Homo sapiens: one gene and its partner. The protein of the gene in region 1 purifies or fractionates together with the protein of each later gene. This does not show direct contact. Each region holds a gene or a part of one and is shown in the gene's direction. Other genes may lie near its edges.

Region 1 (3,500 bases):
AGTAGCTGGGATTGCAGGCATGCACCACCACTCCCGGCTAATTTTTGTATTTTTAATAGAGACAAGGTTTCACCATGTTGGCCAGGCTGGTCTCGAACTCCTGGCCTCAAATGATCTACTGGCCTCAGCCTCCCAAATTGCTGGAATTACAGGTATGTGTGCCTGGCCCACAAGGGTCTTTATAAGAGAAAGAAGGAAGCATGAGAGTCAGTATAAGAGAGATTTGAAGATGCTACACTGCTGGCTTTGAAGATTGTTTAAGGATCATGAGTCAAGGAATTCAGGAAGCCCCTAGAGGCTGGAAAAGGCACGGAAACAGATTATTCTTTAGAGCCTCTACAGGGATGCAGTCCTGCCAGCCCATTTTGGACTTCTGAACTTAGAACTGTAAGATAATAGATTGGTGTTGTTTTAAGCCACAGACTTCGTATAATTTGTTACTGCAGCAATAGGAAACTAACATGGAGTGTGAAACCTTAACATTGGATTTAGACGTGGCTGGATAGAAAAGATCAAAGCACTGCAGAAGATTATCTAATTGCCTAATACAGGTTGTAAAAAACATTTTAAAATGTTGCAAGTCAAAAAATCAAGTCTTAAAAGTTTGACCCGAATTATTTTCCTAAGATTTCAGACAAAGATGTCTAGGCCTCTGTGGCCCATTATGGCTCTGGGAGTAGAAAGTCCTCTGGTAAGGCATGTAGCTAGTGGTTAAAAATGAAGACTAAAGCCAGACTGCCTGAGTTTGAATCCCAGTCCCACCCTTGACTAACTGTGTGACTTGTGCCTCAGTCTCCTGATCTGTACACTGGAGGTAATAATATCCCCTTCAAAGGGATGTTTTAAAGATTAAAGATGAAATATATAGAACAATGCCTCAAGTTTTTAGAAAAATGCTTCTCACCTCATAAATATTTGTTGCTGTTGTTACTATTATTGTTTTTAATGACTGACAAGAGTGTCTTATGCAGAATAAATATCTCTTTGGGGACAATGAAACAATTGAAAGAATGGACAACTGAATTATTGTAACAGAGCAGTGACCTAGGCGAGACCAAGTATTAGGTTTACAAATCAGCCAGCTATCCGATGCTTAGCACGTCCTTGTCAAAGACCTTTGGAAACTACAGGGTTTTTACTCTTATGTTGGTCCCCATGAAGTCAGGGTCTGTGAAGGGTCTGGGATTTTACCCTACTTGCAAGCTAACGTGTTAGCCTATTACAGAAGACTGGAGACAACTACATCAGAGTCAGAGGACTTTATTACTCACAGCACAGCAAACAGCATGAGCGTGGTGGTGTTAATTCCCCATGTCCTCCAAAACTCACCGAGGTGACAAAGATGGGCACGGGCGAAATGAGTGCTATGCACTCAGTGGATTTGTGTCACAGTTGAGCAGCGTTGAGCTTAGGGAGCCTACTGCTTTTACAGTGGGCCATGAGCAAGGGGTGGGTTGTGGCAGGGGGAGAGGGTGGGAGCTACTCTCCTCGTAGTTGTTGTGTCCTGGTTGACCCACCCCAAAATGGAGATGTCAGACCTGGGAGTTACAAGCCTCCATGGGTTCATTTTTAACAAGAGCTCAGCAGCAGACCAACGATTGCGTCCCCTTTTTGAAAGGGGTGTGTTATGGGTTGAAATGTGTCTCCTGTCTCCAAATTCATATGTTGAAGCCTTAACCTATAGTACTTCAGAATGTGATCTTGTTTGGAGATAGGGTCTTTACAGAGGTAATCAAGTTAAAATGAGGTCGTTAGAATGGGCCCCAATTCAGTGTGACTGATGGCTTTATGAGAAGAAGAAATTTGGATACAAGACCATACAATTCATACTGGACTATGCATACCGGGACCATACAATGTGAATATGAAGACAGCTGTTTACAAGCCAAGGAAGGGGCCTGGAACAGATGCTTCTCTCACAGCCTTAGTAAGGAACAAACCTTGCAGACACCTTGATTTTAGATTTCTCCCCTTCAGAACAGAGACAATAAATTTCTGTTGCTTAAGCCGTCCAGTTTGTGGTCCTTTGTTATGGCAGCCCCAGCAAACTAATACAGGATGTATTTGGTGCCTGTGCCAAGCAGGTGGTGCTGCTGCACTGGGCAGTGGCCTCACTGGAGCTTCATAGTGATTTTCTTTTCCTCCCTGGGCTTCTATGTTTCTATTAGACCACCTAGAAGGGGTCTGGGAATCCCTGACTGGGGAGTCTGTTTTGGTCACTGTGAGTTTTATAATACAAGCATGTAATACATCAATGTCATTGTACATTTGTATGTAGTGGGTAGGGAGAGTGTTGACACACATCACAGTATCTTGAATTGGCTATAAAGGTCCCTTTAATTTTTTTTTACTCATTGTGAAGTTTGCTTACACTCTATCAGTTGAATTCAGTTACTTTCCCCCACCTAGTCACAATATACATGTGATCAAGCATGATGACTCACACCTGTAATCCCAGCACACTGGGAGACCATGGCAGGATGATTGCTTGAGCCCAAGAATTCAAGACCACCCTGGGCAACATAGTGAGACTTCATCTCCATTTAAAAAATTTAAAAAATTAGCCAGGCATGGTGTTACACAACTATAGTCCCAGCTACACAGGACGCTGAGGTGGGAGGATTGCTTGAGCCCAGGAAGGTCAAGGCTGCAGTGAGCTGTGATCATACCACTGTACTCCAGCCTGGTTGACAGAGCGAGACCCTATCTCAAAAAACCAAAACAATAACAATAAAAGAACAGAGACAAAAGAGTTTAACATAGGTACTTCAAGGGTGGTCGTAATAGTTTCAAGAGATTATGCTGTCTCCAGCTAGGGGAGAGGGGCAGGGAGGGCTTTTTGTCCTTTGGCTCCTCGTCCCAGAATGGGTGCTGCTTCCTGTCCTGTGTTCTCTGGCCTCTGGAGAGAATGGCCACTCAGAGCCATCATTATTTCAGCCTTTGCTGGAGCCACTGCATGGCCTTGCAGTCTTTGGAGCTCTGGGCCACCCCAGTGCTTAGCATACTTGCCTTCCCTGAGACCAAGTAGACTTTGGCACTCGTGTCCAGTCCAACAGAGCCATAAAATTTTGAGTCCTTCCCTGCCCTGAAGTTCCCCAGCATACTTCCCTAAAGCAGAGGGAGTTGGAGGAGAGGCAGGGGAGGATTGGGGACTGGAGGGAGAGAGCCACTCAGTGCCAGTAAGCAAGGCTTTGTATTTACTTTATTTCAAGTGACCTCTGCCACTGGGCTCAACAGACAAGTTTCTGACGCTTTTAGTCTACCCACAGTTCTCTACCCTCATTGTTAACACCATTTATTTCAGCTCTGGGGACCCCTAGATTCAGCAGCCATCGCCACGTCGCCTTGTTTTTTGGCTGGATCGTGGAGCTTGCTGCCCCATTGTCATTGATAACATCCTCCCTTCTCCCACCCCAGAAGGGAGTATGACACAGCCAAAGCACCATTAGGACACCTTGTTTCAACCCTACCTTTTGTTGTTCAACCACATTTAACACATA
Region 2 (3,500 bases), on another chromosome or scaffold:
AGAAACTGAAGCTCAGCATAATTTGCCTAAGAAAACAAACCAGGTGAGAAGTGAAATGAGACTTTAAACCCAAGTCATTTGGTCCCAAATCTAGATTTTTTCTGAACCTGGTTTTTATTTACCTGACTCATATGATTTTTTTTTTTTTTTTCTGAAACAGAGTCTTGCTCTGTTGCCCAGGCTGGAATGCAGTGGTGCAATCTCAGCTCACTGCATCCTCCACTTCCCAGGTGCAAACCATTCTTCTACCTCAGCTTCCTGTAGCTGGGACTAGAGGTGTGCGCCATCATGCCCAGCTAATTTTTGTATTTTTAGTAGAGATGGGGATTCACCATATTGGCCAGGCTGGTCTCAAACTCCTGACCTTGTGATCCGCCTGCCTTGGCCTCCCAAAGTGCTGGAATTATAGGCATGAGCCATCACACCCAGCCGACTCAATTGATTTTAAGTGGGTATGATTATATATATATATATATATATAAAGGTAACAAAATTATGAATAAATATATGATTTACATTTATGTATGAAAGTACCTCTTCCGCCCCTCCACTGCCTTTCTTTATGAAGAGATTGCCTCATTTTTTCCTAGATATTTAGGTTCAGTAATGCAAACTTCAATGGATAATTCATTTGTGTTAAGCTTTAAAAATTGAATATATTAACAGAATAAATATTTAATAGCAGAATTTTCATATAAATATATTGTGGTATAGTTTGACTTTAAAAGCTTTAACCACATATAAAAGATATTCTACATATGCACATATAGATGTTAGCCCACAATGTTAAACCAAGTACCCATACATTTCTTAGATATTTGTAGTCCTGTCTTCTTGACATCTATATTAAAACTTAATTAATTGGCAATTGTTGCCTCGTGGGTTAGATACTTCGTTTAGATAAATTTTTCACCTGTGGCCAAATTGCCATTCCTAGGTTTGTCTGTGTTGAGATATATCATAAATTATGTTTTGATTCTAGCCAAAAGGCAACTTAGAAGCACACCAAGGTGCTGCAGGCTATCAGTAGCTCCTCTGTGCCTCCTGCCACTCCTATAGTATGGAAGACATTCTAGATAAGTCAAATAAAGGCTACTCTTGAGTCCAGCTTAAAACTTTTCAAAAAGCCTTAATACTCAGACTCTATTTCATGAGATTGCTTACTGACAAAGTGGAATGCTTGGGTCTTGTACTTGGGTCTGAGCTTGAAGAAGTATAATGCAGTCTGTAGCCTTATAGAGATAAGCCTTCTCTTTTGCAATAATGGTATCCTGATATTTAGGTTTAATAATAGGAGCACCTTATTATTTATTGAATGACTACTATATTCTAAAAACGTGGCTAGGTATTCTATATATATGTTCTTTGACTCATCATAATCTTGCAGAGAATGTGGTTTTATTCTCATTTTATTGCATGTGTAAGATAACTGCAACCCACAGAGGTTTAGAAACTCACTCAGGGTTGCTTAGTTCATAAGTGGAGGAGCTAGTCTGAACCTAGGTCTGATCCTGCCAGCTGTGCTCTTTGTGAGCTGCTGTGAACTTACAGTCTTTAAGGAGATGGGAATGTTTTACTAAGTGTTTTGAGTGTATTTGGAATATTAATAAGTTCTTATGGAAACAAAGTTTGGGTGTACATGGAACCAGGAGTTTTTCAGAGCTAAAAGAAGGTAGTACATTTTATTTAAATAAATTGTCAGAAAGAGAAAAGGGCTAAAAACAAAGCTGAAAATGTGATAGAAACCTAGAATTTTTATTTCTAGGAGGGTTACTCATTCAAGCCAGTCTTCTTATTATCTTTGAGGAAACAGAGGCTTATGAGTCAAGTATGTCATTTACCCAGAGCTTTGACCACATCTCCTGTCTTCTAGTCCTGTGCTCTTTCCACTGTAATATGCTATTACCTTTAGATTATGATCTTAATGGCTGGGGGAATGGACAGGCAAAAGAATGGAAGCTGTTAGTGAGCAGGTTGTTGAGATGAATGGTTGGAGCAGGTCTAGTTTGATTGCTTCCCTGCGTGAGATTGGATAAGTTCTGAGTTGAGGTATCAGGCTATGCAAGAATTTGTAGTGCAAGGAAACTTGTAGTTTGATATTAATGTTTTATACAAATAGATTTTGACACATACAAATATGTGTCAGTGACATTTGAGGCGATGGTTAATATTCTGCACAGGAAAATGAGGCTGTTGTATTTACATTTTTTAAAGAAAATAACTATTTTCAGTAAAAATTAAATAAAGTTCTAGGTGCAGGTACTATTTTAAGCTCTGGGAGCCCAAGATGGAGAAGATACTCTCCATGCCCTTGAGGAATGTATATATTCTAGTACCAGGATAGATGTATATATAAATGAGTACAATACGTGTACCTTTTTTTAACCATAGGGGCATTATTACTTCAATATTACAGTTGTGAATTCTCTGGAAGCTTCTCAGAGTAGTTGGTATGTAATAAATGTTCCCAGTTTGAGTGGGGTCCTTTCACTATGAATGCAAACATGGATGACGGCAGTGTGAATATCAGCTCAGTAGCACAGACTGAACAAATGTCTTCTATGTAGAAGGAACTGGGCTGGATTCTGGGACACACCAAGCCGGTGACACACAGCCTGCTCTCACTGAGTATAGGACTCAAGAGGGGAGAATACACAACTCACTGTAGTGTGTCAGACAAGTTAGGTGCTGAAGGGACACAAGGTACAGCAACAGCACAGAGTGGAGAGCCTGGTGTGGGGTTTGGGGAGGGTGATGGGGTCATAGGAATGTAGGGCTGAGGAGCTCTGCGTAGATAGAGAAGGTAACATTCGACGTGAGCCTAAAGGGATGATTAATATTTTTCAAAGAGAAGCACATCAGAGGCACAGGGAACATTAGGAAAATGGTAAATGTGACCAGAGATTAAAAAGCATAGCTTTTTAATTGCTGAAGATGGGGTTGAGAAAGCATCTGGGGACCCCATTGTGAAGGGAGTGGGATGTTATTCAGAGGGAATATGAAGTAATGCTTTAAGCTGGGTAATGACATGATGCCTGTTTCAGAAAGAGAAGACTAGTTTGGAGATGGTTATAATATTCCAAATAAGGGATCACGTGTCCCTGAAGAAGCACAGAAGGAAGAAATGAGAGACTTTTGCCAAAATAGAGTTCAGATAGGAGCAAGGGGTTGGAAGCATTGAAGATAACTGAGGATTCTATCAAGGGTGACTGAGGAGGAGGAGAAGCAGGGCAGCAAGTGTTGGGCTTGTTACAGACATCATGAAATTGAAGACCTTGCCTTTGTAGGCCTTCAGTGTGAAGATGATTAGCAAGTAGCTGGAGATGTAGGTATTGGTACAGGGGAGAAGTCAGGTGTTTCTAATTATTTAGAGAGCTAAACCAGCTCATAGAAAGTAATTGAAGCTCCAGGACAGAGTAGATTACTGGGGAGGGTAAAAAGTAAGACGAAAAATATGCTAGTCAGAAACTTGAGGAACACTGTGATTAAGGGACAACCAG

Evidence for each region.
Region 2: the proteins of PLGRKT (region 1) and FAM204A purify together in Homo sapiens (affinity purification with mass spectrometry; one large-scale study listed by BioGRID and IntAct). This does not show direct contact.

What each region holds. Positions count from the first base shown.
Region 1 is NC_000009.12:5,427,926-5,431,425, reverse strand, and holds part of PLGRKT (plasminogen receptor (KT)), read left to right. Parts: intron 1-3,500. UniProt on the Homo sapiens protein: Receptor for plasminogen. Regulates urokinase plasminogen activator-dependent and stimulates tissue-type plasminogen activator-dependent cell surface plasminogen activation.
Region 2 is NC_000010.11:118,328,825-118,332,324, reverse strand, and holds part of FAM204A (protein FAM204A), read left to right. Parts: intron 1-3,500.